2 separate regions of the Homo sapiens genome follow, and region 1 is linked to region 2. The links come from fine-mapping of genetic effects on gene expression. A gene starts in region 2. The other region holds a variant in brackets. All regions are shown on one strand. Distances are from middle to middle. Region 1 holds the start of MIR7850 (microRNA 7850). Region 2 holds the start of GADD45B (growth arrest and DNA damage inducible beta).

Region 1 (3,016 bases), 150 kb after region 2:
ACTCTCAGGTGTCTGCCACATGGACCCTCCACAGGCAGCTCACGACATAGCTGTTTGCTTTCTTTAAGGCAAGAAACCCCTTCCCTTTCTCTCTTTCTTTCAACTGTGGTGTGTGTGTGTGTGTGTATATATATATATAACATAAGACGGATCATCTTAACCACGTTTATGTGTACGGTTCAGTGATGTTAAGTATACTCACACTGCTGTGCAATGGCTCTCCAGAACCTTCCATCTTGTAAAACTGAGACACTGTATCCACTGAACAACAGCTCCCCTCTTCCCTCCCCCAGCCCCTAGCACCCACCATTCTCCCTTCTGTCTCTCTGAATTTGACACCTCGGGATGTGCTTCTGGTCTCTTTTATGGGCTCACCTGATGAGGTCAGGCCCACCCAGGATGTCTCCTTTTTGATGAGCTCAGGTCAACTGACTAGGAATCTTCGTCGCATCTGCAAAATCCCTTTACCGAACACACGACCTAACTGCATTAACCTAACCACTGGAGTGACACCCCATCGTATTCGCAGGTCCAGCCCATCCTCAAGTGCAGGGGATTAGATAAGATGTGGGCACCAGGCGGTGGGGGTCTTGGGCGCCATCTTGGAATTCTGCCTAGGACTGTAGCTGTAAAAGACATGGTGGCCATTGCTGCTGTAGGTGCCATTAGTAGGAAACACACACAAAGTGGCCCCCAAGGAGCACGTACTATGCATCAGGCTCTGTGCAAGGCACAGAGAAAACAGCAAAGAACTTTGGGGAAAGTTGAAGACTTGAGGTGAACAACTGGATATCTTAGTAGGTCTCTCTGAAGGTTGAGCAAATGGATAGGGGATATTGGGAGATGGGTTATGTCCCTTGGAAAGAACTCCAAATGTCCCTTTCAATAACTTTCCACTCTACCAGTCATCTCCTCCTTCCAGAAATTCTCAGGAGGCAGCGCTTGGTGGCTCTTCTGCAGATGCCAGGATGGTGACGGTGACAGCAGGCCACGCTCTTGTGTTTAGAATAGGAGGTCCCCAAGGACACAGAGTCACAGACGGGTCAGGTAAGTTGCCTGGGCGCCCACACGAATAGGAGGTGCTTCTGGATTTGAAACAAGTCTTCTAGTGCTAGGAGCCCCAGAACACACCTAGTGCCACCCCCTCCCCACGACAAAGCCCACCAGAAGGGCTGGCTGCCTAAAGAGGTAGTGGACAAGACCTCACAGACTCACAGACTAGTGGGAGAAGACAGAAGAGCGTAGCCCTGAACGCAGTGTGGGGGCACACGGTGATTGGAACCTGGCACCCACATCAACGGTCAAAGTCTAGATGGTTTTGTTTGGTTGTACTCCCGCCTCCCTCTGACCCCATGCCCACGAGTAAGAGGAGCTCCGTCCACATTTATGGACACTTAATGTTCCTGCACACCCATAAATAAGGTGAAGCCGAGTCTGCATGTGTGCGAAAGGGCACAGAGCTTTGCACATACATGGTGCCAGGGTCCATTTCCTGGTTTTGTACTATGGTTAC[G/A]TAAGATGTCACCACTGGGGGAAACTGTGAAGATACATGTGATGTTTTTTGCTCTGTGTGATTTTTGCAACTTCCTCTGAATCTGTAATGATTTCAAAATAAAGGTTGTTTTTTTTTTTTAATAAGTGGAGACACATTTAGGTGTAACTGGGACACAGCCTGCCACCTACTTTCCAAATGCCTCCTTTCTCCCAATAACCCCCACCCTCTCCCCAAAGACCTGGCAGTACTCCTGCAAGAGGAAGGGATGGACGCCAGAAAAAGGGAGTGAAGGTCCTGCTGATTCGGTCCTGGCTGAGGCCGAACGCAGGCCCCCCCTTCCCTTTGCCACCAAGAGGAGTCTAAGATCTCCCTGGAGAACATATCTTGTAGAACCCCCTCCCCTTGAGTGTGGGCAGGGCCCGTGGACATGATGAGATATCACTCCCCTGATTAGGTTGCTTTTCAGGAAAGAAGGGATTTTGAAGAGGTAAATAAGGTCCTAAATCAGTTGACCTTGAGTTCACTGAAAGGGCGATTATCCTAGGTGGGCCTGGTCTAATCAGGTGACCCTTTAAAAGGGATTGGGCCTTTCCTGAAATGAGAGCCTGGAAGCATGAGGGGCCTATGGAGAAGGCCAAGTGGCCTGAGAGTGGCCTCAAAGAGCTGAGAGTTGCCCCCTCCTGACAGCTAACAACGCAACAGAAACAGTCTATCAACCACAAAGAACTGAATTCTGAATGAGCCTGGAATGAGCTTGGAAGGGGATCCGTCACCACACAAACCTTCGGATGAGAATGCAGCCCTGGCTCACATCTCCGAGGTCAGAAGTTTGGACATAGTGTGGCTGGGTCCTCTGTGCAGGGTCTTACCCAGCCACACTACATCCAAACTTCTGACCTATGGAACCATGAGATAATAAATGGGTGTCACTCTAAGCTACTGCATTCATGGTAGTTGTTACGCAGCCATAGCTAGCTAATACACTCTTTATGTGCTGCAGACTAGAGCATTCTGGGATTTTATGGTCAGCTTTCAAACTTATTCATACACAAGGGTTTGGACATCATGTCCCTCCACAATCAGCCAAGCAACTCAGCAGTTTCCTCCTGAGTATGTCTGAGTATATCATCAAAAAGGTCTAATGACTATGACATTATCTGATTGTCTCAACAGCACTGTGTGGGGCTGAGGAGGCATAGCAGGCATGAAGACCAGAGGAAGAATGGTGCATTTAGTATTAGACAGCTTGACATGCATTAACCCCTTGAGAGGCAGGCACTGCCTATTCTCCCCCCTTTCACAGACGAGGGCATTGAGGTTCAGAAAAGCACAGAGATGGCCCAGGGTCACAGAGCCAGTAGGTGGCAGAGTTGGGAGCCCAAGCCCTAAACTGCTGGTTATGTCACCTCATGAAGCCACTTAACCTCGCTAGGTCTCAGCATCCTTATCTGTCCAGTGACGATCATTCTTTCCTCACGAGTGGTTATGAGATGAAATCAGATAACTCAAGGCCTCTAGGCT
Region 2 (2,714 bases):
TTCCCGGGGCGGCGGAGTCCTGCAGGCGGCCGTGCCTGGCGCACACGCGTGGCTCCAACACGAACTAGCCTATGGCCTCACCAAGCCTCAGTTTCCCCTTTTGCATAATGCACATAAGCATCCCCCCTGCTTCCCAGGTCTTGGATTAAATCATCCATGAATCCGGAGGGGTGGGGGGTACCAGGTCCGCACCACGCACTCAATGCAGGTCAGCGCCCACCCCGGAGTGAGAAATAAAAGTAGCCGTCATCCTTGCACGTGGGCCCTGGGTGGCGGCGTGCAGCCGGAGCCTGCACCATTCCCCTCAACAATGGCTTTCTCCAGGGCCTGGAGGCCTCCGCACGGGCAAAGGCTGGAACGCCAGGCAGCCGGCGGGGGCGGGGCCGCGCCACCTGCACCTCCCACGCGCACCCCACCCTGATACTCGCGGGGTCGGCGAGGAGGCGCCCACTTTCTTCTCCAGAGCGCCCCGGGCTTTGCAACCTCCCACTTTCGGGGCCCTCGAGGAGGCCTCCCGCGACCACCAGGTGACAGCTGATGTGTATTGGGCTCTTACTGTCAGCCGTATTTTATGCCATGCTCTGCAAACCAGCGAGGCCGGCGCTGCAGACCCATTACTCAGACGGGAACAGAGAGGCCGGGAGAAGCGAAATCACCCAGGGGCTGGGGTCGTCGCAGCCAGGAGAGACTCCGGCCCTCACCACCACCTGGGCGAGATCACGCTGCAAACGGGGCCCCTTCCCGGTGCAGCCCCTCCACCCCCAGCAGAACTTGGGAAAGGCGCGGTCCGGGACTCTCCGCGGATCGGGAGGGGATTCCAGGCCCCCCCGAAAGTCCGGGCCGCCTCGCGCGCTGGAAATCCCGCGCGCGCCCCGAACCGCGGCTCGGCTGCCGGGAAATCAGGAGAAAAAAACTTCTGCTTTTTTTTCTTTTCTGGCATTCGCGGTCACCTACCCGGCCCCCGCGCGCCCTCCTCCCGGTTCTCGCCCCCACGTGGGGCGCCCCCGCACGCCGCTCCTCCCCCTCCCCTCCGTCGGCCAACCGCAGAGCTAGCTGCACTCGCCCTTGTCTTTCCACCAATAGGAGGGGCGAATGACTCCACTGAGGCCACGCCCAATGTTCAAGTCTATAAAAGTCGGTGCCGGAGGCTCCCAGCTCAGATCGCCGAAGCGTCGGACTACCGTTGGTTTCCGCAACTTCCTGGATTATCCTCGCCAAGGACTTTGCAATATATTTTTCCGCCTTTTCTGGAAGGATTTCGCTGCTTCCCGAAGGTCTTGGACGAGCGCTCTAGCTCTGTGGGAAGGTTTTGGGCTCTCTGGCTCGGATTTTGCAATTTCTCCCTGGGGACTGCCGTGGAGCCGCATCCACTGTGGATTATAATTGCAACATGACGCTGGAAGAGCTCGTGGCGTGCGACAACGCGGCGCAGAAGTAAGTAGCCGGGGCTGCCGCCGCCTGAGGTCAGCCGGGACGGGATGGGTCGGGTTGGGCCGGGCCGGGAGCGGAACGTAGCACCCGGTGGTCCGCCCGTCACTGATCCCTCTTTCCTGGTCTCAGGATGCAGACGGTGACCGCCGCGGTGGAGGAGCTTTTGGTGGCCGCTCAGCGCCAGGATCGCCTCACAGTGGGGGTGTACGAGTCGGCCAAGTTGATGAATGTGTGAGTCAGACCCCCTTCCCGGGCTGGGCGCGGGTGGGACGGGACCTCCCCTCCGCTCTGGACGCTTTCCGCACGCTTGTCTTGCATGGAGCTGGGACTTCCCCAAGTGCCCCCCGCTGTGGATGCAGAGCTTCTCTGCCGTTTTGTGGATCGGGGGCTGCCGTATCCTGATGTATCGTCTGCAAACACCCCTCCCGCCGTGGGCCTGTCTCCCCCTACCCCATACTTTGAACCGTGTGCCCTCCCCTCCCCCCACCGTCACCAGCTTGCAGAGGCAATCCCCTGCACCCTTGCAGTTTCTCTTTTGCTCTTGCACGCTCCTTTTTTGCAAACTCCCCCTGCACGGTGGCCCCTCCCCTGTCCCCGGCTGACCCATCCCTACCCTTTGGCCCCCTCAGGGACCCAGACAGCGTGGTCCTCTGCCTCTTGGCCATTGACGAGGAGGAGGAGGATGACATCGCCCTGCAAATCCACTTCACGCTCATCCAGTCCTTCTGCTGTGACAACGACATCAACATCGTGCGGGTGTCGGGCATGCAGCGCCTGGCGCAGCTCCTGGGAGAGCCGGCCGAGACCCAGGGCACCACCGAGGCCCGAGACCTGCATTGTCTCCTGGTCACGGTGAGTCGGGCCTCTGCCCTGCCCCGCCACGCCCGGGCACCTGGGCCGGTGTTTGTCAACAAAGTCGGGCTGACTGGTCCTGCACAGCTCAGCGCTCAGCCACGTTTGGCATGTCCCGTGGGCAGCCGGGCTGGGGCCTCCTCACCCAGGAAGCTATTTTGAGCCTGACTGTTTTCCCCACACAGGGGCCCCGGGAGAGGGAGGCTCCACTAAACCCCTTCTTTTCCCTCCTACAGAACCCTCACACGGACGCCTGGAAGAGCCACGGCTTGGTGGAGGTGGCCAGCTACTGCGAAGAAAGCCGGGGCAACAACCAGTGGGTCCCCTACATCTCTCTTCAGGAACGCTGAGGCCCTTCCCAGCAGCAGAATCTGTTGAGTTGCTGCCACAAACAAAAAATACAATAAATATTTGAACCCCCTCCCCCCCAG

Evidence for each region. PIP is the estimated chance that this variant, and not a neighbour inherited with it, causes the effect.
Region 1: its variant is the best candidate, but not a certain one, in a credible set for the expression of GADD45B in whole blood (INTERVAL, PIP 0.59).

What each region holds. Positions count from the first base shown.
Region 1 is chr19:2,628,401-2,631,416 of GRCh38, forward strand. All of the region lies in intron 2 of GNG7 (G protein subunit gamma 7), which reads right to left. MIR7850 (microRNA 7850) reads left to right here and starts at 2,315; the gene lies at 2,315-2,393. The variant G/A (reference allele first, on the strand shown) is at 1,514.
Region 2 is chr19:2,474,969-2,477,682 of GRCh38, forward strand. It overlaps GADD45B (growth arrest and DNA damage inducible beta), which reads left to right and starts at 1,159. Exons shown (of 4, transcript NM_015675.4): 1 at 1,159-1,434; 2 at 1,561-1,662; 3 at 2,061-2,283; 4 at 2,520-2,714. The coding sequence starts at 1,391. The coding sequence ends at 2,633. RefSeq lists a silencer at 310-419 and enhancers at 1,160-1,229, 1,231-1,818, 1,800-1,889, 1,819-2,408, 2,050-2,159 and 3 more.